Linked DNA regions of Homo sapiens. The protein of the gene in region 1 interacts with the protein of each later gene in a pairwise test. Each region holds a gene or a part of one and is shown in the gene's direction. Other genes may lie near its edges. The genes, in order: PTPN23, PSMA3, GRAP2 and PDCD6.

What was found.
Region 2: the proteins of PTPN23 (region 1) and PSMA3 interact in binary tests that used the Homo sapiens proteins (3 or more experiments, as listed by UniProt).
Region 3: the proteins of PTPN23 (region 1) and GRAP2 interact in binary tests that used the Homo sapiens proteins (3 or more experiments, as listed by UniProt).
Region 4: the proteins of PTPN23 (region 1) and PDCD6 interact in binary tests that used the Homo sapiens proteins (3 or more experiments, as listed by UniProt).

Annotation. Positions count from the first base shown.
Region 1 is NC_000003.12:47,376,365-47,384,030, forward strand, and holds the start of PTPN23 (tyrosine-protein phosphatase non-receptor type 23), read left to right. Parts: upstream 1-4,656; 5' UTR 4,657-4,732; coding exon 4,733-4,816; exon of another isoform or gene 4,817-5,128; intron 5,129-7,666. UniProt on the Homo sapiens protein: Plays a role in sorting of endocytic ubiquitinated cargos into multivesicular bodies (MVBs) via its interaction with the ESCRT-I complex (endosomal sorting complex required for transport I), and possibly also other ESCRT complexes.
Region 2 is NC_000014.9:58,261,832-58,268,855, forward strand, and holds part of PSMA3 (proteasome subunit alpha type-3), read left to right. Parts: intron 1-1,873; coding exon 1,874-1,939; intron 1,940-3,533; exon of another isoform or gene 3,534-5,562; intron 5,563-5,642; coding exon 5,643-5,689; intron 5,690-7,024. UniProt on the Homo sapiens protein: Component of the 20S core proteasome complex involved in the proteolytic degradation of most intracellular proteins. This complex plays numerous essential roles within the cell by associating with different regulatory particles.
Region 3 is NC_000022.11:39,953,068-39,960,091, forward strand, and holds part of GRAP2 (GRB2-related adapter protein 2), read left to right. Parts: intron 1-2,751; coding exon 2,752-2,843; intron 2,844-6,987; coding exon 6,988-7,024. UniProt on the Homo sapiens protein: Interacts with SLP-76 to regulate NF-AT activation. Binds to tyrosine-phosphorylated shc.
Region 4 is NC_000005.10:274,633-281,656, forward strand, and holds part of PDCD6 (programmed cell death protein 6), read left to right. Parts: intron 1-1,379; exon of another isoform or gene 1,380-2,308; intron 2,309-7,024. UniProt on the Homo sapiens protein: Calcium sensor that plays a key role in processes such as endoplasmic reticulum (ER)-Golgi vesicular transport, endosomal biogenesis or membrane repair.

The DNA of each region.
Region 1 (7,666 bases):
TTGAACTCCTGACCTCAGGTGATCTGTTTGCCTCTGCCTCTGCCTCCCAAAGTGCAGCCCAGACTCATGTATATTCACTTGTTGAGACTTTGGGTGGTCCCCTCCCCAGTCCAGGCCTGGGTTTCTACATTGGTAAAATGGGGAAGGGTGTGTGTGTTTTTAAGGGCCCATCCAACTCTGCTGGGTGTGATGGGGAGGCTGTCTTGAGAAAAGGGTGTGCTGCCCCCTCGTGATGAGGCAGACTCTTCCCCAGGACCATCAAGTCTTAGGCTTCTAACTCCCAACCCTGCCTGGAAATACATGTTAGGAGGGCACTCCCTGCCCCGGAGTCACCCTTTCTGCTGTCTCACCTCCACCAACCCATCCCCGCCCTCAGCATTCAAGGCCTGTGAAGGTCCTCTTGGTCTTTGATGCCTTTCACACCAATTGCCCTTCATGTCACTGTGACCCTGTGTTATGGGCTAAATGTGCCCCCTCCATTACTCCTCATTTCATGTTTGAAGTCCTAACCTCCAGTACCTCAGAATGTGACTGAGTTTAAAGGCAGGGTCACCAGGCCCAGGGATAAGATGGCCATTAACAAGCCAAAGAGAGAGGCCTCAGAAGAAACCAACTCTACTAATACCTTATCTCAGACCTCTAGCCTCCAGAACTGTGAGGAAATACATTTCTGCTTAACCTACTCAGTATGTGGTACTTTCCTATGGCCACTCTAGCAAATGAATACACCCTGGAACTCACAGAATACTTTATTTCTTTTGTTGTAGTTCAACTCCAGAAGCACCATGTGGGGACAAGGTGTTCCCATTCCACCTCGGGAGTAGAGGCCAGGGGAAGGAAAGGCAGTAGGGCCAAAGCTATCACTGTAGGAAGCTCATGAGATAGGGACCCATCTGCCCAGCTCTCCTGAATCCTGGAGCCTCGCCAGAGCTCCCTCTTGCATCTGCAATTCCACCTGCCTGGAATGCCCATCTCTATAGGTCTTCTCTGTCTTGCAAGGCCCAATTTAGGGCTTCCTACTTCTCCCCTTCCTCTCTCACTTCCTGTTCCAGCCCATACTGAACTGCAACAGCTTAATCCTGACCCCTTGCTGGCCTCAAGTTTGGGTCCTGGGCTGTCTGTGTCCTGTGGCCAAGCAGCCGCCTGCTTCTTTGCTCAGTAATGCTATGATGTAGTCTCCCAATTCCCAGCCTGCTCTGGACTCAGCTGTTGTGCCTAGGTCTTGCAGCTCCCTCATGGCTGACCACTGCCTCACCATCAGAAAGCCCCAAGGTAGGCTGCTTTATGCTTTTGTATTTTACTTACTACAAATTGTGTTCGGGCAGTTTTGCAGGTTGTAGGCCTTCCCATACTTTCTTTCTTGTGTTTGTTTTGAGACAGAGTCTTGCTCTGTCACCCAGGCTGGAGTGCAGTCGTGCAATCTTGGCTCACTGCAACCTCCACCTCCCAGGTTCAAGCGATTGTCTTGCCTCAGCCTCCCTAGTAGCTGGGACTACAGCCACACGCCACCACACCCAGCTAATTTTTGTATTTTTAGTAGAGGTGGAGTTTCACTATATTAGCCAGGTTGGTCTTGAACTCCTGACCTCAAGTGATCCGCCCGCCTTGGCCTCCAAAAGTGCTGGGATTACAGGCGTGAGCCACCATGCCCAGCTTTGCCCAAAATTTCTCTATCTCTGTCCAGGTGACCTCAAGATGGTCTTCCAGGCTGGGCGCAGTGGCTCTTGTCTGTAATCCCAGCACTTTGGGAGGCTGAGACAGGCAGATTGCTTGAGCCTAGGAGTTCAAGACCAGCCTGGGCAACATGGCAAAAACCCATCTCTACAAAAAATACAAGAAAAAATTAGCCAGGCCTGGTGGCACACGCCTGTACTCCAGCCACTAGGGAGGCTGAGGTTGGAGAATTGAGTGAGCTCAGGAGGCCAAGGCTGCAGTGAGCCGACATCACACCATTGCACTCTGGCCTGGGCAAACAGAGCAAGACTCTGTCTCAAAGAAAAAAAAGTCTTCCAGAAACAAGCTCTTCTAAGATGCTGGAAGAACTGGCAAAATTTTTCTTTCTCTTTAAATAAATTATTTGCAAGGTCTTATATTTTATTTTTTTTAAACTGTGGTAAAATATACCTAACAAAGTTTACAATTTTTCTTTTTTTTTTTTGAGACAGAGTTTCGCTCTTTGTTGCCCAGGCTGGAGTGCAATGGCACAAATCTTGGCTCACCGCGACCTCCGCTTCCCGGGTTCAGCGATTCTCCTGCCTCAGCCTCCCGAGTAGCTGGGATTACAGGCATGCACCATCAGGCCCGGCTAATTTTGCATTTTTAGTAGAGATGGGGTTTCTCCCTGTTGGTCAGGCTGGTCTTGAACTCCCAAATCAGGCGATCCACTCGCCTTGGCCTCCCAAAGTGCTGGAATTACAGGTGTGAGCTACCGTGCCCAGCCACAAAGTTTACAATTTCAAGCATACAGTTCAGTGGCATTAAATTGTTCAGATTGTTATACAGCCATTAAACAGTAACTCTCCATTCTCCCCTCCCCTAGCCCAACAGACACCATTCTACTTTCTGTCTCCATAACTCTGACTAACTAGGTATCTCAGATAAGCAGAATACAGTATTTGTCCTTTTGCAACTGGCTTATTTCACTTAGCATAATGTCTTCAGGGTTCATTCATGTTGCAGCATGTAACAGAATTTCATTCCTTTTTAAGGCTGAATAATATTCCATTGTATGTACACACATCATCTTTATTCATGCATCCATCCATCACTGCATGGATTGCTTCTCTTTTGGCTACTGTGAAATGGTACTGCTATGAACATTCATGTAATTTCATTTTCTTCTGCTCTAACTCCAACTGGAATGAAGCTAGGCCCTTGACTAAGTCTTGAAAGGGTTTGAGGTCTCACAACAAAGGGACCTGGGCTCTACCTTGTGGGTGAAGCCTGTCTTAGAATCCCAGATCCCACCCACATCCCACGGTCTCCATAATTTTTCTTTTTCTTTTCTTTTTTTTTTTTTTAACACATGGTTTCACTTTTGTCGCCCAGGCTGGAGTACAATGGCACAATCACGGCTCACTGCAACCTCTGCCTCCCGGGCTCAAGGTTCCTCCCGCCTCAGCCTCCTGAGTAGCTGGGACTACAGGCGTACATGAGCCACCATGTCCTGCTAATTTTTATATTTTTTGTAGGGACGGGGTTTGGCCATGTGGGCTAGGCTGGTCTTGAACTCCCGGGCTTAAGCGATCCGCCCGCCTCGGCCTCCCAAAGTGATGGGATTACAAGCGTGAACCACCGCACCCGGCATCGTGGTCTCCACATTTCATCCAGAACGAGTCAAAGGCCTTGACCTCGAGCTTAACACGGACCTGAACCTTTGCTCTTCCCTTGTTTTCCCTTATCAGTAAACAGCCCCACAGCCACCCACCTGCACAAGCCAGAAGCTTGGAAATCATATTCGACGTCCTCATGCCCTTACATCCATCCATTCCAAGTTCTGATACTTTTGTCTCCAAAATATTCCTCAAATATTTCTCAAAGTGGGCAAAATATTTCTTTGCTCACTTTTTACTTCCCTCTGCTCCAAGCCACAATCACCTGTCTCCTGGAAGACTACAAAAGGCTCACTGATCTCCCAGCTCGCACTTTTGCACTCACTATCTCCAGGCCATTCTCTGTTATTTCTATTGTTACTATTATTATTTTGAGACGGAGTCTCGCTCTGTCGCTCAGGCTGGAGAGCAGTGGCAAGATCTAGGCTCACCGCAATCTCCGCCTCCCAGGTCAAGCGATTGAACCTCCAGCCTCAGCCTCCCGAGTAGCCTATTATTTATTTCTAAAAGTAGGTGATACAGCCATATGATTTAACAATTCCTGCTCTATAGGTCCCCTCTCCAGAGGCAACAGGTGCTCTCCATTCCGTGGTCTCCTTCCAGATACTGTGGGCGTCCCTGGGTGCTCACCTGGCCGTATACCTTCCCCCACCCACTTCCCCACAGGGCCCGGGGCCTCCTCACTCCGCTTGAGACCCTCCATCCAGGCGCTCCCTCCCTATCGTCCGTCTCCCTTGGGCACTGCCCGGCCTCCCAGGCTGGGCTGAGTAGGCCAGTCTCCGGTCAGTGATTCTGTTCCAAAGCTCGAAAGCCTTCGCAGCACTGGGACTGAAACCCCCAGCTCTCAGCCCCGACTCCTTCAGGCCAGGTGCTCCCTCCGCACCCTCTCTAAGGCCCGTTTTCGCGTCATCTCTTTCCAGCGGCCCGCCCGCCACGTCATCTCTACCACAGCACCAGTCCTCCACGGCTCTTGACAATACGTGGGAGGGCAAGTTCATAGGTGAGGTCTCATGCTCTTCCTAGGAGGGAGGAGCGCGGCGGGCGGGACCCGCAGCTGGGCTTGGCCCGGGAGCGGGGAATAAGCTCGCTCCGCGCCTCTCAGTTTAGTGGATGAAGACTACTATCCCAGAAGCCGTTTCGCCTCGGGCTGGCGAGCTCCTCCCCGCCCTACTCCCTCCGCGCGAAGAAGACTGAGCATGCGCAACAGGGACAGCGCCTGCGCAAAAGACTACGCGAGCGGGTGGCTGGGTTCACTGCAACTCCCGGCAGGCCGCTGGCATTTTTCATTCCCTCCCGTGACCAGTGACTTCCGGCACGAAGGGGCGGGGCTGGGCTCGTGGCTGAGCCAGCAGCTGCAGCAGCTACGGGAGTGGCCGGGTGGCCGGCGGGTGCCAGCCGCCATGGAGGCCGTGCCCCGCATGCCCATGATCTGGCTGGACCTGAAGGAGGCCGGTGACTTTCACTTCCAGCCAGCTGTGAAGAAGGTGAGCTTGCCTTCCATCTTCCCCCCTATCCGCCGCGTATCTCCGTCGTCTGCAAGCGCGTGACGCCCCCCTGCGCGCCCATCACCTCCTCAGGCCCGGTCGCAGGGTCCGGTGAGGCCAGGAGGGGCCTTCGCCGGTTTTCCTCAGCCTGTCCCACACCCCGGCGCCCGCAGGCCATTCTTCTCCTCCCCGATAGCCCCGTGCTAGCACCTGCATCTTCATCTGAACCCGGTTCCCGACTTCTGCCCCGAGTCATCCGCTGTTCCCACTGAGGCAGCACACTTCCTCCTTCTGACGCTCGGACCCAGTTCTGCCCCGCCCCTCCTCCATGCCAGGACCGCCCCGCGCGGGAGCGGTGGGCGGCCCTGACCGTGCGGATTCTTTTGCTGCGCCCGGCCCTCGGTGCGCTGTCAAGTCCACGCCCGCCTGGGACAGACACTGGGGATGGCTCAGGGGCGTGTGTTTAAGACGTGAGCCCCGGTGGCCCAGGGAGATGCCCGACCCCTGCGGTGAGGGTTTGTTTTACAATTGCTGCGATTCTGTATGGTCTCCCATTCGGGAGTCTCTTTGGACCAAACAATACAATCCCACGACATTTTTAGGAGGGTTACTGCTTTTCGTAACCGACTGGAGGGCATAAACAGTGTTGTAGAGCTCAGAGAAATCTTACTGTGTTGGAAGAACAGACGGGCAGGTTTGGCGTTGACTAAGGCAAGGAACTTCTGTGGAGAGGTTCAGGTGTGGTGATTGAACACAGGTGCCCTCCGAGACATCCGCTGTATTGGTAGCACTGAGGGCTAGAGCAGAAATGAAAAGGAACAACCAGGAGGCCGTCGCAGGTGGGGGGCCTTGTGGGCTTAGCACAGCAGATGCCAGAGTAAGCCCCAATCTAGATGGTGCACCACTTAGCGAGACGCTTGGGAAGACAAATAGGAAAAAGAAAATGGGTTTGGAAGTAGTTTCCCAAGAAGCTGTCTCCCCTCTAATCGCCATACACCATTGCCTTAGTTCAGACAGTGTTTGAGTCCATCATCTAGCCTCTTGGGGCCAGGAAATGAGGGTAATTGATCCAAAATTCTAGAATTTTGTTAACGGTTATCCAGACGTTGCTCTCTTCTTCATCTGCTGTTTCTTTTTCCTACCTTTTTTTTTTTTTTTGAGACGGAGTTTCGCTCTTGTTGCCCAGGCTGGAGTGCAATGGCACGATCTCGGCTCACCGCAACGTCAGCCTCCCGGGTTTAAGCGATTCTCCTGCCTCAGCCTTCCAAGTAGCTGGAATTACAGGCATGCGCCACCATGCCCGGCTAATTTTGTATTTTTATTAGAGATGGGGTTTTGCCATGTTGGTCAGACTGGTCTCGAACTCCTGACATCAGGTGATCCGCTTGCCTCGGCCTCCCAAAGTGCTGGGATTACAGGCCTTCATCTGCTGTTTCATACAAATACAATTGGATGAATTTTTCTAAGACACAACAGAACTCCTGTTTTCTTTTTCTTTTCTTTTTTTTTTTTTTTTTTTTTTTTTTGAGACGGAGTCTCACTCTGTCACCCAGGCTGGAGTGCAGTGGCGCAATCTCAGCTCACTGCAAGCTCCGCCTCCCGGGTTCACGCCATTCTCCTGCCTCAGCCTCCCAAGTAGCTGGGACTACAGGCACCCGCCACCACCCCTGCCTAATTTTTTGTATTTTTAGTGGAGAGGGGGTTTCATCGTGTTAGCCAGGATAGTCTCGATCTCCCGACCCGTGATCCACCCACCTTGGCCTCCCAAAGTGCTGGGATTATAGGCATGAGCCACCGCGCCTGGCCAAAACTCCTGTTTTCTGTTTTACAGAATAGATCCGGTATCTTTTTTTTGGAGACGGAGTCTTGGAATAGAGCCAGTATCTTTAGTTTTCCATTAGAGTTCTTCCAGACTTATCCCACTTCTTTCAGCATTTATTGAGTCCCCACTGTGTGCTTCATCTACTGTGTGCATCTGATAGAGGTACCCTAGATTCTGTTCTCAGTCACTTGCTGTTTCCTTACCATACTCTGTTTCCTCTTCTGTGCCGTTGGTCATGGAATTCCTCCTGCCTAGAAGAGGTCTCATTTTGCCCTGTGGGGTGGTGAGGTGCCCTTCTTCAATCTCCGTGAATTCCATTTTCTTGTCTCCCATCCAACTTTCAAGGTCTACTTAAGCTCTCCTTTCTGCAGAGCCTTTCTTAATCTTTCTACCTGGATTAATCTTTCTCTTCTCTTAATTCCTTAACTCTTTTCATCCTTTCCCTGGTGACAGTTATGTATGCTGTGTTTTAACCCCCCTGTTCAAGTGTGTGTTACCTGAGAAGCATCTCTGTGTTCCCCAGAGCCTAACAGTGTACCCTCTACATAGTTGGCAGTCAGAAAAATATTTCTCAAATGATTGAATTACAGCTGAGCGGAAATTTAGAGATGGTGACCATAAATATATGGGAATGCAGTAGATAAAATCTTGGCCCAGAAACTCCTAGGAAGTATTTTTGTTTGAACTTAGCCTTTGCTGCTCTGACGATTCACACCGACCCAAAGGGTATTGTGTGACCAGTGACTTCCCTCCATGCACCTGGGCCTCCAGGAGAGGAGTTGCTCATTAGCCCTTTAGCCCGAGGTGGTATCAGATATGAAACAATTACTCCTATAGACACTGGAGGAGACTGTGCAGACACCACTGCAGCCTGGGGACTCTTCCCAACCTGCACCCCCTTCCCCAACTGCAGAGCCCCTTCTCTGCCTTCTGCCACTGGCACCCTTGTCCTGCTTTATGCTTGCTCTGAGCTGTGGGAACCTCTGCCAGTGAATTGGAGCTGAGGGTTAGAATTTAATTTAGAATAG
Region 2 (7,024 bases), on another chromosome or scaffold:
TCTCAAACTCCTGGCCTTAAGCAGTCCTCCTGCCTTGGACTCCCAAAATGCTGGGACTACAGGCGTGAGCATCGATGTCCAGCCATGTCATCCCTTTTATTTTATTTATTTATAAGATGGAGTGTCACTCTGTCTCCCAGGCTGGAGTGCAGTGGCTCGATCTTGGTTCACTGCAACCTCTTCCGCCTCCTAGGTTCAAGCAATTCTCCTGTCTCAGCCTCCTGATTAGCTGGGATTACAGGCATGTACTACCATGCCTGGTTAATTTTTGTATTTTTAGTACAGATGGGGTTTTGCCATGTTGGCCAGCTGGTCTCCAACTCCTGACCTCAGGTGGTCTGCCCACCCCGGCCTGCCAAAGTGCAAGGATTACAGGCGTGAGCCACAGTGCCGGACCTAATTTTGTTTCAGACAGCGTCTCGCTCTGTCACCCAGACTGGAGTGCAGTGGCGCCAAACCTCCACCTCCCCAGTTCAAGCAATTCTGCCTCAGCCTCCCGAGTAGGCTGGGATTAGAAGCATGCATCACCACACCCGGCTAATTTTTGTATTTTCAGTAGAGACGAGGTTTCACCATGTTAGCCAGGCTGGTCTCGAACTCCTGATCTCAAGTAATCCGCCCACCTTGGTCTCCCAAAATGCTGGGATTATAGGTGTGAGCCACCTTGCCCTGCCTTCCCTTTTAAAGAGAAGGTTTAAATGTGATTTCTAAGAGCTTTCCCTAAATTATTACCATTTTTTTTTTTTTTTGAGACAGAGTCTTGCTCAGTTGCCCAGGCTGGACTGCAGTGGTGCAATCTTGGCTCACTGTAACCTCTGCCTCCCGGATTCAAGGGATTCTTGTGCCTCAGCCTCTCAAGTAGCTGGGATTACAGGCCTGTACCATCACACCTGGCTAATTTTTGTATTTTTAGTAGAGACAGACTTTCACCATGTTGCCCAGGCTGGTCTGGAACTCCTGGCCTCAAGTGATCCACGTGCCTCAGATTCCCAAAGTGCTGGGATTACAAGCACTTTGTGTGAGCCACTGCACCCGGCCTGTTACCGTTTCTTAACTGTTTTCTTATCCTTACATTTTTGTCGTTTTTACTAATTGAAGAAAATGAAGATTCTTAAATATATTTTGCTGTAACAGAAGTATATATGTGTACATCCTTTTTTTTTTTTTTTTTGATGGAGTCTCACTCTGTTGCCCAGGCTGGAGTGCAGTGGCGCGGTCTCAGCTCACTGCAACCTCTGCCTCCCAGATTCAAGCGATTCTCCTGCCTCAGCCTCTGGAGTAGCTGGCATTACAGGCACCTGCCACCACACCTAGCTAATTTTTTTGTATTTTTAGTAGAGACAGGGTTTTACAATGTTGGCCAGGCCGGTCTCCAACTCCTGACCTGAGGTGATCTGCCCACCTTGGCCTTCCATAGTGCTGGGATTACAGGCATGACCCACCACACCCAGCTGTGCATCCTTATCTTTAAAAAAATTTACAAAATAATAAAATTGGGGGTTTAGAGTACTGAACTCATAGGAATTAACTTTATTTCTGTCTCTCAGGAATATATAATTTCATTTTTCATTGTCATAGTGCTAAAATCTTTTCCGTTCCTGTTCCCCAAAATGTCTTAAAGTGTATATGATTACATAATTTACATATTTTTGGATATACCTTTATTAAAAATACAGGTTGTTTTGGAATTGTTTGGTATTTTAGTATTTTTGAGCCCTTTGGCATTCATCAGAATGTGTTTGACTATATTTTTCTATACTTGCTTTTAAAAGTCATTTAGCATCCTTTCACTAGGTTATAGAAACATTAGTAGTCATTAATTACATATGATAGTGTACTAATTCAGTGATTATATATATTTTTTTCTAAATAGGGTTATTGGGGCTGTGCCATCGGCAAAGCCAGGCAAGCTGCAAAGACGGAAATAGAGAAGCTTCAGGTAATAATTAATGCTTGAATTTTTACTATGTCGTCATCCTAATGCAGTGAAATTTTATCACCACAGACATTTCAGTCTAAGGCAGGGATGTCCAATCATTTGGCTTCCCTGGGCCACACATAAAATACACCAACACTAATGATAGCTGATGAGCTTAAAAAAAAATCTCATCATGTGTTAAGAAAGTTTACGAATTTGTGTTTGGCCCCATGTGGCCTGTGGCTGGGGAAGCTCGGTGTAAGGATATAGTGTGGTTTGATGTTGAGAGTTTATGAAGCTGCTAAGTCACTGAATGGGAAAGCTGGTAACATATTATCTGTAGAGTTGTGTTATACATCCCTTTATAGATTCTGAATAACTGCTATAAAGCCTCAATCTAGAAAAACACAACTTTTGATATGATTTCACAAAATCCTTGAAACCTATTTATGAATCTCTGTGAGCTCTAGTTTGAAAATTTTGTTTAAAATTTTGAGTTAATAAAAAGTTATATTTTTCCTATATTCTTTCTTTGGAACACAGCTTTTATGTCTGGCTGTGCTCCACCGGTTCTCTTAGCTTTGCTCCTAGCCAGGTAAGGCATAAAGCCTACACTCTTACGACTACCCACTTTTTCTTTCACAAAATTCAGCTATTAGTGTGAAAAAGTTTTCTTAAAAACTTGGTTTTCCTTTTAGCCATGCGTTGATCAACTTAAAGACTTCATGGATACTGTTTCAATATTATTGATTACCTGTCAGAAACTTGCCTAAAAAGCAGGCATACCATTTATCAGTGTTTTGGTAAACTGAAGTGAGATACAATTTCACATACATTTAATGTTAATGCTGTACTAGAACCCTGCTCAACTAATTACTCATTCAACTTATTTAAGACCAGCTTCTAGAAAATACTTATTAGTGCTTGGCATTTATACAATGCTAAGTTCTAGAACCCCCTATAAAACCTAATTTGTTTCGTATTTTAGTAAAGCTGACAAAAGGATCTTAGAGGTCATTTAGCCCAAGCTCAACTGCAGATTAAACACACTGCATAGGACCACAGAATCAGCTGGTTCTGAACAGTATCCAGACCTTATGAGTCTTAGACCTATGTTCTTTTCCATTGCACACTTACTAGTATGATGCTAGGTTCCTATCTTCTACTCTTTTCCTTTTGTTTTCATCTCTCCATACTATTATATGGAAATTTGAAAATTAGAATATTTATGTCAGTTGAGGGGGATTACCCCTGTAATCCTACCAGTTTGGTAGGCCAAGTTGGGAGGACTGCTTGAGCCCAGTAGTTCCAAGACCAGGCTGGGCAAAAGAGTAAGACCCTATCTCCCAAAACAAAATGTTAGCGAGGTGAGGTGGTGCGTGCCTGTAGTCCCAGCTACTTGGGAGGCTGAGGCAGGAGGACTGTTTGAGCCCCAGCCAGGAGTTGGGGGCTACAGTGAGCTATGATCACGCCACTGCACTCCAGCCAGGGCAACAGAGCGACACCTTATCTCAAAAAAATAAAGGAAATTAGAATATTTAGAGCAGTTACTATCTGTCTTTCTGTAGTTAAATCCTAGCAAGGAATGGGAAAAACAATAAATCCCAGAGAAAAATCAAGAAAAAAAAATCACTTTAATTGAGGAACACTTTCAGTTTGTGACAAAATTATGCTGTGAATCAGGTGTTGCAAATTATGGCCCACTGCCTGCTTTTGTGTAAGTTTTATTGGAACACAGCTACATTCAGTCCATGGCTGCTTTTAGAATACAACAGTAGACTTTAACATTTGGAACAGGGAACAGAAACCAGAGCCATACAGCTAATAAACTTGAAAATATTTACAAGTTGATGCTTTACAAAATCCATCTGCTGACCCCTGCTCTGTACCATTGTTCTCTTCTGATGGTCTGTTTACTAAAAAATAAAAACTTCACAAACATGTAAAAAATAGATTTGCCATTTAAAATGTGCTTTTCAAGTTTGACTTTTTAGGATGCAATTAATTCACTAAATACAGAACTTAACTAAGGACAAAAATTTAAAGATCAGCATTCTTTCCCTTCCCATCACGCTCAACTTAACATGAAGAACTGTAAACATCCTAAGCTTACAACAAACCTATCTAGTTAGACTTCAGTTAACCACTTACACATCCCCCTCCCCCATGAACTATTTGGAAAAAGCTGCAGGCGTAATATTGGATCCCTAAATACTTTATTCTCCTTATACCATTATCAGACCCAAGTATCATCTAATAGTCCATAATCAAACTGCCTAAGCAGTTTCTACACTGTCTTTTTAACTATTTCAAACTATCAAGGTTCGCATTTTCTTCCTTAGAACTTTTAGTCTTTTTCTTCCCCAAAATATTTGAGTCCATGCCAGTTGCCTTTAGTTGTACCCAAATAATGGTTTGTCTATTTCCTAAAAGTAGTACTCTTAAATTTAAATTTAGTGTTATTTTTGTTGTCATTGTTCCTTCTTCCTCATGTGGTTGTGCAGGCAGAGCTTGAGCATCCAGATTTCAAAATTAAAAAATAAAAGATAATCTAGTTTAATATATAGTAGTTGAATCACCTTAAGTCTAGACTGCTGTATGAGCACCCATTATCTTTCACTATATTCCATCATCCCCCAACATATCCACAGTAGATGAAGGGCAGTTTGCTCAAACATTGTTTTGATCCTGTCATGTCTGTTCAGAAATGCCTGTCTATTCAGAAACCCACGTCTAATAACAAAATCTTGGACTGGTTACTATCAAAACCCAACAACATACAGACTCCTCAGCTAGGCCCTAGGGATATTTTTCTACCTTGATTTCCAAATGTTCATTGAAAGAATGCTTAATTCTAATTTGGAAAAAAGTTTTTGGCTTCCCACTTCTGCTTTACACGTTCATCTTTCTTGAAATCAAATCCAATCCAATCTATATTCTAAGAACCTGCTCAAATCTTGGTTCTTCAAAGCTTTCCCTGGTATTTTGCATTTTTGCTTTGAATAGTTCCACGAAGGATAACTTCTTACTCCTTCCTTCATCTTTCTGTATCTTGCATATAGTAAATATTAATGACTTGTTTGCATTTTGTTATCCTAACTTGGCTATAAAGAAAATCAGATGTCTTCACCAGTCGTTCAAACTTCAGGTCTGCCTACAGATTCATAGATGGCTGTGGATTTTTATAATTTTGTCACAAAGTTAGTGGTAACTACAGGTTATCTCAGAATATCTTTTTTGGCGTATAAATTTTTTTCTTTTCCTTTTTTAGACAGTCTCTCTCTCTGTCGCCCAGGCTAGAGTGCAGTGGCGTGATCCCGGCTCACTACAACCTCTGCCTCCTGGGTTCAAGAGATTCTTAGGCCTCAGCCTCCCGAGTAGCTAGGGTTACAGGCGCGCACCACCTCCATGCCCAGCTCTTTTGTATTTTTAAGTAGAGACAGGGTTTCACCATGTTGGTCAGGCTGGTCTCGAACTTCTGACTTCAGGCAATCCGGCCGCCTCGGCCTCCCAAAGTGCTGGGATTACAGGCACAAGCCACTGCACCCAGCCTGGAGTATAAATTTCAAAACATTAAAATATGAATCAGGAAACTTCGATTCTGGTCTTTTTCAGACTTTAGGTTATTTTCCTTGGTTTTATATCTGAGTATAAAAGTGAAAATAGTTATTACACAAGTGGAAAATGTTCTTCTGATGAACAGTATACATTTTATTTTCTATAGATGAAAGAAATGACCTGCCGTGATATCGTTAAAGAAGTTGCAAAAATGTAAGTTGAAATTTTTCTTACCATCCACAAAAATATTTCATTTGACCTTTGCATATATATATTACATTAATCCTAAGAAGCTGTTTTCCTGTAAAATAACTTAGTGTATAATTTTTAGAAGGTAAATTTAACATTCTAAGAAGCCTCACGAAGGAAGAAAATGTTTTTAAGCAATATTTTTTAGTAGTAATGAATAGGATGGGAAAAATAGCTTGACAAAATAAACTCCTGTTACAGGTTAAGGACATATACCATTAGGGTCTTAATTTGTTAGCTCCCAACTTCTCAAATCTCTTAAGTCCTAATAATAGTAATCTTAAGATTGCCTCTATTGTAAGAATGCTTACAAACTTTATAGGTTACAACTAATTATTTCAATACATGATCCATGAAGCTGGCTCATTTATATAATCTGCTATTTATTTGGGAAAGATATGTTTCACTTTTTCAGGTTTATTATAAAAGTTCCTATAACAAGGTAAGAAGAGCAGTATTACAAAACATTTCAACAACCAGCTTAAGAAACCCTGAATAGTTTATTACAGGTATATAAAGTAGAATACTATTAATATGTAACAGGTATTTGGACAGTAAACAATAAAAAAGTCAATTAACCTGGGTAGTGATGTTTCTAAAATTTTGTGATTCTCTAGATCAAAGAGTGTAGACATTTGGTATTACAAAAAGATTCCAACAAAATACGTTGTGTAGCCAGCTTTTTAGATTCAAAAGTTATGGATAATCGTAATTCATAACAACTCTAAGTATTCCACATTAGAACTACATAAACAAGGTCTAGTCAATCACCTGTCTGTATGGTAGTGTATCAGGTTTTACATCTAACAATACGTGGAAGAAAAAAATTCCAATGGGCTCTATTGTTTAATAAACATACTATTTACATCACACTCAGAGTCTCTTATTAACCGGTCCATCATTACTGCTACTGCCTTTACCCCTCTTGCCACCTCCTCCCCTCCGCCCTCCTAGTTTCAGTTGTGAAGCAAGCAGAAGCCATTCTATGATTGTCAGTTAATAATGGCAACACTAGGAACCAACATGCAGCAGAGCTGCTAAGAAAGGAAGTCAGATATCTTCCTTGAATTGTATAGTATGTTATCATGATATACTCTGTTTCCTTCACCGAACCAATCCTTTGAAGTCCTTCTGGAAATCAGTTCTTACCATCTTTTATATTTAGGTATAATGGTAGTCATCTGTTAAGTGTTCCATGTTAGGAAAGCCATCCCTTCATCATTTAAGAAAATGGAGCAGCATGTTATCTTTTACTTAGTTGTAGAAAATCAAGATCCTCTCATATTATAGCAAGGTTTT
Region 3 (7,024 bases), on another chromosome or scaffold:
CTCAAGCACTTAGTTCTTTCCATTATCTTCCCATCTTCTTTTCTGGGAGAAAGAAGCCCAAGGGCCCTGTGACTTCAACTCCACCCACTTTCTGATGACTCTGAAACCCCAAGCCCCAACCTTAGCCTCTCTCCTGGGTCCAGACTGACATATCCAGCTGCTCCCTGAGCTTTTCTTCTTAGTTGAAGAATTCAACTCACAGTCACCCGCATGCAATCTGAAGCCCATGAGCCCTTTCTCAGCCCTGCCTCCTCTCATGTATCTTCTATTTCTGTAAAGCCGTCACCACCTACTCAGTCTCCCAAGCCAGAAATCCAGTGGCATCCCAGAGTCCTCCTCTCCCTTAGCTTCCAAGATTGGTCAAGAAATCCTGCCTGTTTGCTTCCTGAATTTCTCTAAAATATATCCTCACCTCCTCTTAGCCTAGGCCCTATCATCTCTTGACTGGAGGCCTGCGCTCATCTTCCTGCAGTTTTTCTGCCGACTTTAGCCTTGCAATCTATCTTCACATTCTGATCTCTGATACAGAGCTCTGTCGCTCTCTCGCTCTCTCTTAATTAGAGACAGAGTCTCTCTCTGTTGTCCAGGCTGTAGTACAGTGGTACAATCAGAGCTCACTACAGCCTTTAACTCCTGGGCTCACACCCTCCTCCCGCTTCAGCCTCCTGAGTAGCTGGGACTACAGGTGCGCTTCCACCACGCCTTGCTAAGTTTTATTTTTATTTTCATAGAGACAAGGTCTCGCTTTGTTGCCCAGGCTGGTCTCAAACTCCTGGGCTCAAGCGATCGTCCACTTGGGCCTCCCAAAGTGCTGGGATTACAGGCATGAGCCATCGCACCCAGCCAGAGCTCTTTCTGAACTCTAATTCTTACTGTTACTTCCCTGCTCAAAATCCTTTAAGGGCTCCCCCTACATTTCAAGATATTCACAGTCTACATTCCAGCCACCTGGAGGCATTTCATTCCCAGAACACACCACACCTCCTCAGAGCTGAAGGAGGAAGTCCATTGCCATCTGACTTGGCCTCAGTAACTCCTTTCGTTGCCAAGGCAAGTGGTCTCTCCTCTACATATGGATGCCTTTTCTATCTATTTCTGCTTTCTTCTTTATCATCACACTTCTATCAGTTAAGATATTTTCAGGAGCAAGAAACATAAACTAAAAATGGCTTAAACAATAACAAAGACTTGTAATTTCTCAAAGTCCAGAAGTAGGAAGGCTCCTGGGTATCATCTAATTCAGCGGTTCAGTGACATTATCAGAGTTCTTTCCATCTTTTGCTCTGCTATCCTTATTTAGAATTATTGTTCTAGTCTATATCAAAGACTTAAAAAAAATTTTTTTTTTGAGAGAGGCTTGCTCTGTTGCCCAGGCTGGAGTCCAGTGGCAAGATCACGGTTCACTGCAACCTTGCCTCCTGGGTTCAAGCAATTCTCCTGCCTCAGCCTCCCGAGTAGCTGGGATTACAGGCATGTGCCACCAGGCCCGGCTCCTTTTTGTATTTTTAGTAGAGATGGCATTTCACCATGATGGACAGGCTGGTCTCGAACTCCTGGCCTCAAGTGATCTATGTGCCTTGGCCTCTCAAAGTGCTGGGATTACAGGCGCGAGCCACCACACCTGGCCTCAGACTTTCAAAACATTCTCAGTGGCGGTGTCAAATATTTTGTCTTTTAATGGTGAATCTCATTTTTTGAGAAACCAGAAGCCACATACAGTCAAGTCTGGTGAGTAATATGAGTAACTGAGGTAGACAATAACATTTGGGGTCACAGTCAAAGTCAGGCCACAGAGTAACAAGACAGAACTTTTGGTTTTGTTTGGGATCTGGCTTTAAAAGCAAGTTTAGAAAAGGCATCCCAAGTATCTTGGGTTCCAGCCAAATATCTGTGAAATACACAGCATGTGAACACAAAGAGTTACTGTTTCCAAAGCTGGCCCCACTGGGATGTTTAAGTTTTAATCTGCCTGTTTAAAAAACAATAACAAATTGAATTTTTGAAAAGTTTCCTGGGCCTGGTGGCTCACGCCTGTAATCCCAGCACTTTGGGAGGCCAAGGCAGGTGGATCACTAGGTCAAAGGATCAAGACAGTCCCGGCCAATATGGTAAAACCCCGTCTCTCCTAAAAATATGAAAAATTAGCCAGGTGTAGTGGCGCATGCCTGTAATCCCAGCTACTCAGGAGGCTGAGGCAGGGGGATCGCTTGAACCCAGGAGGTGGAGGTTGCAGTGAGCTGAGATCCCGCCACTGCACTCCAGCCTGGCGACAGAGCAAGACTCTGTCTCAAAAAAACGAAAAACAACAACAAAAAAAAGAGAAAAGTTTCCTGGTTACCTGGAAGAGAAAAAAAAAAATACACCGTGGAGTAACCATTCTTCCTTCTCACCATCTGCTGAGATGAGGAACTTAAGGTGCTAACTGGGACAAATGAATTTCCAAAATAGAAAAAGGGATTCAGGGAAGTCCTTGAGTGCTGAATTTGGGAGGCCAAGCCACAGTGGGGTGACATGAGTGGACGGCACAAGTGGACAGAAATAACCTGGGGTCAGGAGAAGCTGACTCCAAAGGTAAACCCACGGCTCCTCCACAGGCCTGGGGTAAATCCTAGAACAGCTGTTGAGTTCTTTCAACTTATTAACATATTTTCCTCTAAGTCCAAAAGGGCCTTCTTTGCCTGGCAGCCCCTTTCTCTTGTTTTTTTGGTGTCCTCCCTCCAATGTCTTTGTCTTTCCTTTTCTTCCATGTAGATTTTAAGTAACCAAGAGGAGTGGTTTAAGGCGGAGCTTGGGAGCCAGGAAGGATATGTGCCCAAGAATTTCATAGACATCCAGTTTCCCAAGTAAGTATCTGCAGCCTGCTGAGATGGGCCTAGCCACACACACTCCTCTTACATTTCCAGCAGTCACTACAGTTATCCATGGGAACCCAAGACATTGTCAAAAATGGCTGCCTCTGGAGCTCTCTCCGGAGAGCCTCCAGAGCATGCAGCTGAAGGCCAGGGCAGGAGGGAGACTTTGCATTTCATTTCATTCCCTTTTGATGTTTACACCATGTGCATGTATTGCTATTTTAAGTTGTTCTTAACTTTTTTTTTTTTTTTTTGGGAGTTGGGGTCTCCCTCTGTCACCCAGGCTGGAGTGCGGTGACTCCATCACCACTCACTGCAGCCTAAAACTCCTGGGCTCAAGCCATCCTCTCACCTCAGCCTCCCAAGTAGCTGGGATTACAGGCACATGCCACCACGCCAGGCTAGTTTTTGTATTTTTAGTAGAGACAGGGTTTTACCATGTTGGCCAGGCTGGTCCCAAACTCCTGACCTCAAGTGATCTGCCGCCTCAGCCTCCCAAAGTGCTGGGATTACAGGCGTGAACCACCATGCCTGGCCTATTTTAAGTTTTGGGTTTTTTTGGGTTTTTTTATTCATGTGTTTATTTGTTTTGAGACAGAACCTTGCTCTGTTGCCCAGGCTGGAGTGCAGTGGCATGATCTCGGCTCATTGCAATTCTCCTGCCTCAGCCTCCCTAGTAGCTGGGATTACAGGTGCATGCCACCACACCCAGCTAACTTTTGTATTTTTAGTAGAGATGGGGTTTCACCATGATGGACAGGCTGGTCTCAAACTCTTGACCTCAGGTGATCCACCCGCCTCGGCCTCCCAAAGTGCTGGGATTACAGGTGTGAGCCACTGCACCCGGCCTATTTTAAGTTTTTATAAAATGAGTTTGTAAACTCAAATTATCTATAGTGATTTCAATCACGGCGTTCCCCAGAATTCCAAAGGGGACGCTATTGGCCACCCCACTTCGGGAGCTGCTCTCCTAAGCGCTTCTCTGTGACCTCCTAATCCTAACCATCCTCACCAGGCTCTCACCCTTCACTCAGTGGGTGGACAGACACTCCCTGCCTTCAGTAAAGCATGCTCACCCCAATGAGAGAAGTCAGCGGGGGGAAGGGGAAATTCTCTTCCTAAAGAGGAAATGAAAAATTGAGATTGGGCTTCGTTTGTCTCAAGAATTGACCACAAGGGTTAGATAGAAATCTAATCTTGCCTCAGAACCAGGGTCTAGCTCAAAGAGCAAAAGCTTGTTAGAAAACCACAGTAGTATTGGTGACTCCAGCAAGGTGCAAGAGCACCAGTCTTGGTAAACCTGAACTGACCACCAAACCAAGAGAATGACCACTGACCTTGACGGAACCCTTGATGCTGCCCAGGAATCTGCTAGGTGACCTCTGCATACCCCACGTGCTCCTCAAACCTTCAGCCCCTCCGTGCATCACTCTTAGCCCGTGACCTTGATTCCAGGTTCTCTGGAACAATGAAAGCCACCAGAAGTGAAGCTCCCAGACCCCCCTCCCCCACCGCATCCACCTGCCTCCTGCAAGTGTGCTCAAACAGTCGGCCTTTCCTGCAGCTGGCTGGAAGGAACTGTCACTGCTTCTAGCAGAAATTCTCCTCTCTCTCTCTTCCACGTCAACCTCCTTTCCCTCTCTGCTGGATCATTCCTGTCAGCAAACACACACGCTGCAATTTCTCCCAACTTACCAAAACACAAACAAACAAAACCAAACCCAGAGGCCAGGTGGGTTTTGTTGTGGCTGATGCCTGTAATCCCAGTCCTTTGAGAGGCTGAGGGAGGAGGATCACTTGTGGCTAGGAGTTTGAGACCAGCCTGGGCAACATAGCGAGCCCCATCTCTACAAAAAATTTTTAAAAATTAGCTGGTCGTGGTGGCATGCGCCTATAGTCCCAGCTGCTTGGGAGGCTGAGGCAGGAGGATCGCTTGAGCCTGGGAGTTCAAGGCTGTGGTGGACCATGATTATATCACTGCACTCCAGCCTGGGCAGCAGAGAGAGACTCTGTTTCAAAGAAAAAAAAAATTTAAATAAATAAATAAATCAAGAAAATTCTTAATCCCAAATCCCCTTCCACTTGCCACTCCATCTCTTCAAAAGGAGTGTGTGCATTTGCTACTTCCAACTCCTCATCTCCCGACCCTTCCCACCAGGCTCCCCATGGGCTGTAGCTCCCAGGGGTCATCTCAGCATGACCTGCCCTGGGGATCCCCCCTCCCACTGGAACACCTCTTTCATTTTGGCTCCAGGACGTCCTTCCTCCGGTTGTCCTCCCACTGCCCTGGCTTCTCCTCCTCAGTCTCTTGTGTTGGTTCCTCCCACTCCCCAGTCCCCTATAGGTTTAGAATGTCTCCTTTTCAGTGAGGTCTTTCTCATCACCATACCTTACATTAATCTCCCACCCACAGCGCCCCATCTCTCCTCTCAGTTTTCATGTTCTCCACAGCACTTACCATCATCTGGCACGCTTCAGATCTTAATTATTTTGTTCTTTTGTGTGTGTCCCCCTCGACTAGAATGTAAGCTCCCTGAGGGCAGGGGTGTGTGTCTGTTCTGCCCACTACTGTGTCCCCAGTGCCCAGGAGGGGCCCAGCACAGTACTAGATGTTCAGTAAAGCTGTTGAATGAATGAATGAATGAATGAACGAACGAATATGTATTATTGAAACCATGACCACTCATGTCTAATATGCAATGTGTGGTGATTTTTACAAATCTTTAAAGAAGCCCCCTATCAGATTGCAGTCAGAGGACAAATGTGTATTTCCTAAATCCCCTTCACTTCTGAAATGTTTCCTTTGCGATATGGCTGCTGTGGTGCATACTCCATTCCTCTTCCCATCCCCATTACATTTCCCACACGTGGCAGTGGTGTGTGTGGTGGCCTCTTGTTTAGCCCTGTAGAATTGTGTGGCAAATACTCAGGCAGAATCTCCAGGCCACCAGAAACTGCTGCTTTCAGCCCTCTCAGAGCACAGCCAAACTTCCCCCTCAGTCCCAGTGGGGGACTCAGTCTCCAGTAAGTACATCCTTCCTGCTACCTATGTCTCAGTTTCCCAAATTCTAGAAAGCACAGAGAATTGCTCACAAAGGAATCCAAAGCCAAGGCCTGACGGGCTTTTATCTTAAAGGAACATGCGTATGAGCCTTCTGGTGACAGCAATTAGAGCAGCCACCTTGAAGCAATGTGACACAGTCCCACCTTTGGCCGCTGAGTGATTGCAGACACTCATTTTGCTTGTCTGTGGTGGAGAGAGGTCTCTGGCCTCCTGCTTTGAGGCTGCAGCCACAGCTTGCCTGGCCCTGTGTAAGTGTTTGACCTATTTCATACATGCCACGCTGTATGCAGCTGTACCTCCAGGGGCTGCCACCCTGACCATTCTGCTAAAAGAGTAATTTCTCCTGTTTCTTCTTTTCCACAGTAAAGATTATTTCCCAGCCTGGATTTTTGGGGCAGGCCCAGGATCTGGTTGTATAGACGCCGCTCTCTGGCGGCTGCCAGCCTCGCTGATTTCCAAGCATGTACACTGGACTCCCTAGGAACACTGCAGCCTCTGCTAGGCACACTGAGCAAAGCCCCCTTGTGCTCCATGCCAGCCTAGGTAACGTGACGCCCTGGGCTGTAACTTTCCTTTAATACCCAGGGAGGAACCTCTAGGCCACTGAGACCTCAGGGCAGGCATGAGCACCCCAGGCCCTGCTCAGCCGGCTGCACCTGGTTGGCTCCAGTGCCTGAAGCCTTCCCTTCCCTCCCCAGTGCATCCTCTGTCCTCGCAGCTCTGGTCTATCTCTTCCGCAGCTGCCGGCAGGCGGCTGCTTCCTGCAGTGAGTCACTCCCACACTGCCCCATTTTGGTGCAGCGACACATTTCCATGATTCGTTTCCCAGGCTGGAGAGAGACTTCTCCTGGAGAGAAGGAACAAAGAGGGTGAATCAAGGGGAATGCTCCCTCGCCTTTCCTGAAAGCTGCCTGGAGCACTGGTTTGATTTCAAACAGCACCTGGTCTCTCTCTGCTCCCTACTGTACAGAGTCCCCAGCCTCTTTCCCTCTGGGTCACCTCTTCTCCACGTCTCCCTCTTGTCACTCCTGTGTCTCATCCTGATCCTTTTGTTTGATCTCGCCCCCACAGATGGTTTCACGAAGGCCTCTCTCGACACCAGGCAGAG
Region 4 (7,024 bases), on another chromosome or scaffold:
CTGATGATGGTGATGATGGTTTCCACTTACTCAACACTCACACGCTGGGCTAGGCACTTAACCCAAATCCAAGGTCAGCATTATTGTTTGGGGGTGGGGGAGACACCTCCTGCTCTGACTTGTGTGTTTGGGTTCCTGTATTTTCACCAGAGGGAGTTAGTCCTGCCCCAGTTCAGCTGGTCCTCAAAGTGTATATAGCTCTTTAACCATCAGCAAGTGTCTATCAGAACATAATCTTGATTTCAGCTGCTACTAAATATCTACCAGGAGACTGCTTGAGAGAATTGCCTGATGGGTGCTGAGTCCACCATTCCTGAGATACTTTGAAATCAGTGGCTTAACCCAAGCTGTGTATCGGGACCCTCTCACCGTGGTCCCAATGGAGTCACTTTTCTTAGGCGCCCCCCTTTACCTTGGGCTCTGAGCTTCCTCTGCCTTTCATCTCTGTGGGATGAAGCCCCACCGCCCTTCAGGATGCAAAGCCCTCTTCTCTAATGTGAGTGCAGGGCCAGGTGCAGTGGCTCACGCCTGACCTCCCAACACTTTGGGAGGCCGAGGCAGGGGGATCCCTTGAGCCCAGGAGTTTGAGACCAGCCTGGGCGACACTGTGAGACCCTGTTGCCTGAATTGCCCTGGGAGATTTCCTCAGCTTGTGCTGGGGGCATGTGGCCCCATGAAGCCCGTAGTCACTGTTCACCCTGAGAGACGCTGGCTTTCGGGCTCACACACCTGCTGCGGGGCAGCCCCAGGAAATGGCCACCCCATTTCTCCTGGAGCTGCGCGTGTTCTCAGAAACTGTGGTGGCCGTTCTGTTTTGTTTGCATCTTATAAACGTTTACCTGATGACATTTTCCTCTTCAATTTAGCTGCTAGAAAATTTAAAGTCAGGTTGGTGGCTCACCAGTAATGAGAGTTTAGAGTAGAAGTAAACTTTATGACATAGTCTTAGACTCTTCACTTTCTTCTCAACCAATATGATTCACATTTACTTTATTTTGCTGTACCGTGAGTGTCTCTGTGTTTCCTGAATTCCTTCTGGAATAAGGCAGGTTGTTAGTAAGCACAGGTTTCTGGTCCATCTCACAGCCTCAGGCAGTGGGCATTGCTGTCGGTGCTCCCTTTCCGGGTTACCTGTGGTAGCTCTCAAGTTGCAGGGCTGCGATTTGAAGCCTGATTTAGTACACCGTGTTTCTGTTGTGTTCTGTGGTGGTTTGCTCCTCACATGTGAGCATTCACCGTGGCCCTGTGTTTTTCCACCACACCTCTGCCTGGTGGCATCCTACTGGATGTCTCAGCCGAGCCACTCTGTTCTGAAGATGCCCTTGTCCTCCACCCCTTTGCTTTGGGCTCTAAGCTTCTTCTGCCTTTCATCTCTGTAGGATGAAGCCCCACCCGCCCTTCAGGATGCCAGCCTTGGCAACATTGTGAGACCCTGTTTCTACAAAAAGTAAATGAGTGTAGTGGTGCACGCCTGTATTCCCAGCTACTTGGGAGGCTGAGATGGGAAGATCACTTGAGCCTGGGAGGTTGAGGCTGCATTGAGCTGAGATCAAGCCACGGCACTCCAGCCTGGGAGACAGAGCGAAACCCCATCTCAAAAAAACAAAGAAAGTGGATGCGCGCTGCTCCTGCCATTGGATCATCGCAGCATTTTTCTTTTCTCTGATATGCACCTTTTTCCTCATCGTGGGGGCTCACGTTTTCATAGTTCCCTCTCACTACTAGGTTGTGAGCTGCGTGAAGGAAGGTTCATAGTTGTGTTGTATGTACAGGCACACAAAATTTGTCCTTGGATAAACACATATCCTCTTCCTTCTTCTCTCTGAATTTCTTTATTTTAAGAAAAAAATTAGAGATGGAGTCTCACTGTCTTGCTCAGGCTGGTCTCAAACTCCTAGGCTCAAGTGATCCTCCTGCCTCAGCCTATACTAATATGAATTCCTATACTAATATGATTGAAATTAGTTTGATTTCTATAATAATTGTGCTCCCAGATTGGGCTTCTGTTTTGATAGTAGAACTAAATTATTAGGCTATTTCAAGAAATTAATATATTACTGGTAGAAAAACTGAAGCTACAAAATGGCCTGGTTTCTCACTTCAGTTAAATTTGTGCTTCTGAGTGCTTGTATTCTAGGTGAAACCACACTGAGAAGGTATTTGTGGCCCATACACTGATTCCTTCATGAGACTTGTTTGCACAGGAGAGCTGCTAAAAATTACTGCTCTCAGGGAGGTCTGTGGTGAACAGGTATGAAGAAGAAGACTGTTCTCTGCCCTTCTTTTTGCAATAAAATGTTCCAAACTATCTTGAGTTTGATCCCTTTTCGGGTGTTTGGGGTTTTTTTAACATTCACATATTTCTTGGAATTATAAGAAATTAACTTTGTGCTTCTGAAGTAGGTTTGCCTTAATATAACACTGATGTATTTGTAAGGGGCATTTTTAAAGCTGTACTTTAAAAAATAATAATTCTTACATTCGTTTGAAGGTTTTTTTATGTGTGTTTTTGAGACAGAGGCTTGCTCTATCGCCCAGGCTGGAGTGCAGTGGCACGCTCTTGGCTCACTACAACCTCCGCATCTGGGGTTCAAGCGATTCTCCTGCCTCAGCCTCCTGAGTAGCTGGGACTACAGGTGCCCACCACCACGCCCAGCTAATTTTTTGTATTTTTTTTTTTTTTTTTTTTTTGAGGCAGAGTCTCTGTCGCCTAGGCTGGAGTGCGGTGGCACTATCTTGGCTCACTGCAAGCTCCGCCTCCTGGGTTCATGCCATTCTCCTGCCTCAGCCTCCCGAGTAGCTGGGACTACAGGCACCCGCCACCATGCCTGGCTAATTTTTTGTCTTTTTAGTAGAGACGGGGTTTCACCGTGTCAGCCAGGATGGTCTCGATCTTATGACCTCATGATCCACCCGCCTCAGCCTCCCAAAGTGCTGGGATTACAGGCGTGAGCCACCACGCCCAGCAATTTTTTGTATTTTTAGTACAGACAGGGTTTCACCATGTTAGCTAGGATGGTCTTGATCTCCTGACCTCTTGATCTGCCCACCTCAGCCTCCCAAAGTGCTGGGATTACGGGCGTGAGCCAGGGGGCCAACATGGTGAAACCCTATCTCTACTAAAAATACAAAATTAGCCGGGAATGGTGGTGCGCGCCTATAATCCCAGCTACTCGGGAGGCTGAGGCGTGAGAATCACTTGAACCTGGGAGGCAGAGGTTGCAGTGAGCTGAGATAGCGCCACTGCACTCCAGCCTGGGGGGCAGTGAGACTCCATCTCAAAAAAAAAAAAAAAAAAGAATAGAATAACCCTTGTTTAGGTGTTAACAAAATCCAGGCCAGACAAATCTAAACTTTAATCTCATACCCAGTTCCTAGATGAGTCCCTTCTCCAGCTCAGGTTCCGCCTAAGCCTCAGGGTTCCTTACTTGGTGGGCACCACCTGCTCCCTTCCCCACCTTTGTCCTCTTTTTCCTCTGCTGGCTCCTCCGGGGTTGGGTGTGTTCAGAGGCAGAGACAGGCTAAAGGTCTTTGGCTTTTAGGTTCTGTTGGTGGGTGAGTTCCAGATATAGCTTTCTCTTGTAGGATATTTCATTTATTTATCTATTAAAAATATTTATTTAGAACACACCATTCATGTGCCAGACCCTGTCCAGGCACTGGGGATAGGGTGATAAATGAGATCAACAAAAATACCTGCCCACATTAAGCTCCTGTTCTAGGGAAGACAGAAAGAAAATACACGTGTCCTTAGTATATTAGAAGATTCCAAGTACTGTAGAGAAAAATAAAGCAGGCTGGACTCGGTGGCTCATGCTTGTAATCCCAGCACTTTGGGAGGCTGAGGTGGGAGGATTACTTGAGCTCAGGAATTTGAGACCAGCCTGGGCAACATGGCAGATCCTGTCTCTCCCAAAAAAAAAAAAAAAATTTAGCTGGGTATGGTGGCGTGCATCTGTAGTCCCAGCCACTGGGGAGGCTGAGGAGGGAGAATTGCTTCAGCCTAGGAGGTGAAGGTTGCAGTAAACCGAGATCGTGCCATTGCACTCCAGCCTGGGTGACAGAGCCAGACCCTGTCTCAAATAAAACAAAAGGAAAGAAAGAAAATGAAAAAAAGAAAGAGATGGGGCAAGCAGGGGAGAGGGCTGGGGACACAGGGGAGGGTGCTGGGGATGCAGGGGAGGGTGCTGGGGACACAGGAGGGTGCTGGGGATGCGGGGGAGGGTGCTGGGGACACGGGAGGGGCTGGGGACATGGGAGGGGCTAGGGATGCAAGCTTTCCTGAGTTCCCACAGTTCTCTGCCCCTCTCCTGTCTCACGGGGTGTGGGCCACCTGTGGCTTGCGGTTGTTTCGCGCCAAGCTAATATCTTGTTCTTCCCAACAGAGAGGCCCGTTGAGGCTTCTCTGTCCTCCATGGGGAACAGCATTGGCCTAAACCTGCAGACACCATTGCAAAGGGAAGTCAGCTCAGGCAAACCCGCTGGTGAAGAAGAATTCCAGTGTGGGGACACAGAGACTGACATTTCTTGCCATGGGTGATTTAATTTTGGGCCTCAGTTTTTCATTCCCCCCTAAGAGTATGACGCAGCCGCATCCTTGCCAGGGCCGGAGGGAGGGTGGATGGACTTATAGGTGTTGCTTGTGGCTGGGTGACTTGCTTCTGCCAACGAGATTTTCACAGACACGGCACAAGCAGAAGCCTGGAATGTGTGGCACTGCCAGGCCTGCCCTCTTAGGCTCTTGATTTTCCCCACGAGATATGCGTGCCCCAGGGAACGGCGGCTCTGGCTGTGGAATGAGAGGCGTGTGGAGCAGGCATGGTTCCCACCCTCAGCCTAGAGTCAAGGCCAGACTAGATCAGCCTAAGCCCAGCCACGCCACGGGTGCAGCAGTGAAGAGCAAATGCCAACTGTCCATGACAGTGACTTTCAAAGGGGCGTGTCATGTGCCTCATCCCAGCAACAGGGAAGGCATTTCTCTATCAGTCAGTTGGTAAATGATTATTGACAATGTGTGGGAAGGTGGAGTTATTTGAGTAGATTTGGCCTCTATTCTCATGGAGCTTCCTTTCTAGAGGGGAAGGCAGATGATGGATGAATAAATATAAATGATTCTAATAGGTTGGTGCAGCAGTCATTAAAAGTAATGGCAAAAAAAAAAAAAAAAAAAAAAACGAGGAGCCGGTGCTGCAGTTCATTAATAGTAATGGCAAAAACTGCGATGACTTGTGCGCCAACCTAACCCAGTAATCACGGGTGTGCAAAATGTGGCGATGGGCAAGTTCCGAGTGCTAGGAGAGCATCTAGCTTCCCGGAGTCAGGAGACGGGGGTTGGCAACCTAACCAAGGTTAAGTCCAAGGGAGGGGGGTGGGCAGGGAGCGATATTTCAGTGGAGACTCCAAGGACGAATGGTATTTAGAGAGTAAACCCCGATAGAGAGGGTTTGTGTCTGGCACAGAGAAGAGCCTGTGCAAAAGCCAGCGGGGCGAGAGGACACCATGTGTTCATCCACCTGAGGGGCGACCAGCAGGCTGGAGCTCAGCGGGTTGAGAGGAGGATGCAGAGCCCGGGAAAGGCACCCTAGGCAGAGGGCACAGCAGGGCAAAGGCCTGGAGTCAGGCCTGAGCCTGTGTGGTTTGAGGAACGGATAGAGGCCTGTCCGGCAGGAAGGGAACAGCACAGGGGAGAGACCTTAGGCCAGAGCAGAGGGCAGGGCTGTGCTGGGCACTGTGGGCTGTGGATGGTGCTGGCATTTAAGAGGGGAGACCATAGACCAGGGCAGAGGGCAGGGCTGTGCCGGGCACTGTGGGCTGTGGATGGTGCTGGAATTTAAGAGGGGAGACCATAGACCGAAGTAGAGGGCAGGGCTGTGCTGGGCACTGTGGGCTGTGGATGGGAGCTGGCATTTAAGAGGGGAGACCATAAGCCAGGGCAGAGGGGTGGGGAGGGCTGGGCCAGGCACCAGAGTGGAGACCACAGGCCAGGGCAGAGGGCAGGGCTGTGAGGGCACTGTAGGCTGTGGATGGGAGCTGGCATTTAAGAGGGGAGTCCATAGACCAGGGCAGAGGGCAGGGCTGTGAGGGCACTGTAGGCTGTGGATGGGAGCTGGCATTTAAGAGGGGAGTCCATAGACCAGGGCAGAGGGCAGGGCCGTGCTGGGCACTTTGGGCTGTGGATGGGAGCTGGCATTTAAGAGGGGAGACCATAGACCAGGGTAGAGGGCAGGGCCGTGCTGGGCACTTTGGGCTGTGGATGGGAGCTGGCATTTATGCTCAAGTGATGGGAATATGTTAAAAGATTTTAAGGAGGGGAGTAACAGTTGGGATTAATGTGTATTCTGGGAATCTCAACAAAGTAAATTCATAGTTCGAATTTTCATAAGACTTCTGCACAGGCAGAGAGAAATAAGATCGCATCTACAGCTGTGTGGTGATTTTCTTTAAAAATACTACTAAGTTTTTAAACGTGATTTCAAATGGTGTGTTTCTGTTTCACATTGGACATAAGTAGATTGCAAGGCTAATGGAAAGTAGAAAAGTTAACTCATGAACATAAAAGAGACATCGATTTGAAAACAAAACATTTATTCATTTACTTCTGCTGCAGTTTTCTTGACTGCTGAATTTCGTAAGAAGGGATTGGTCAGGGAGGGTCTTGGGGCTGAAGACCTGGAGAGGAGCTGGTGCTATCGCTGTTCAAATCTGAAGGTGGTGGAGATGGAGCCTTGGGGAGGAGCCGGTGCTGCCTTTTAAGTCTATGAGAGTCGTTGAGCTGGAGGTCCAGGGAAGAGCTGGTGCTGCCACTGATGTCTTAGGTTGTGGAGCTGAAGACAGTGAAGGAGCTGGTTTGGCTGTTCTGTGAGGGTCGTGGAGCTGGAGATCCAGGTGGGAGAGGTGTTCTAGTTTGAGGGTCATGCAGATGGAGATCTGTGAGGAGCTGATGTTATTTTAATTGGTGGGTCGTAGAGCTGGAGACCAGGGAGGAACTGGTGTGGTTCTAGTTTGAGGGTTGTGGAGCTGGAGA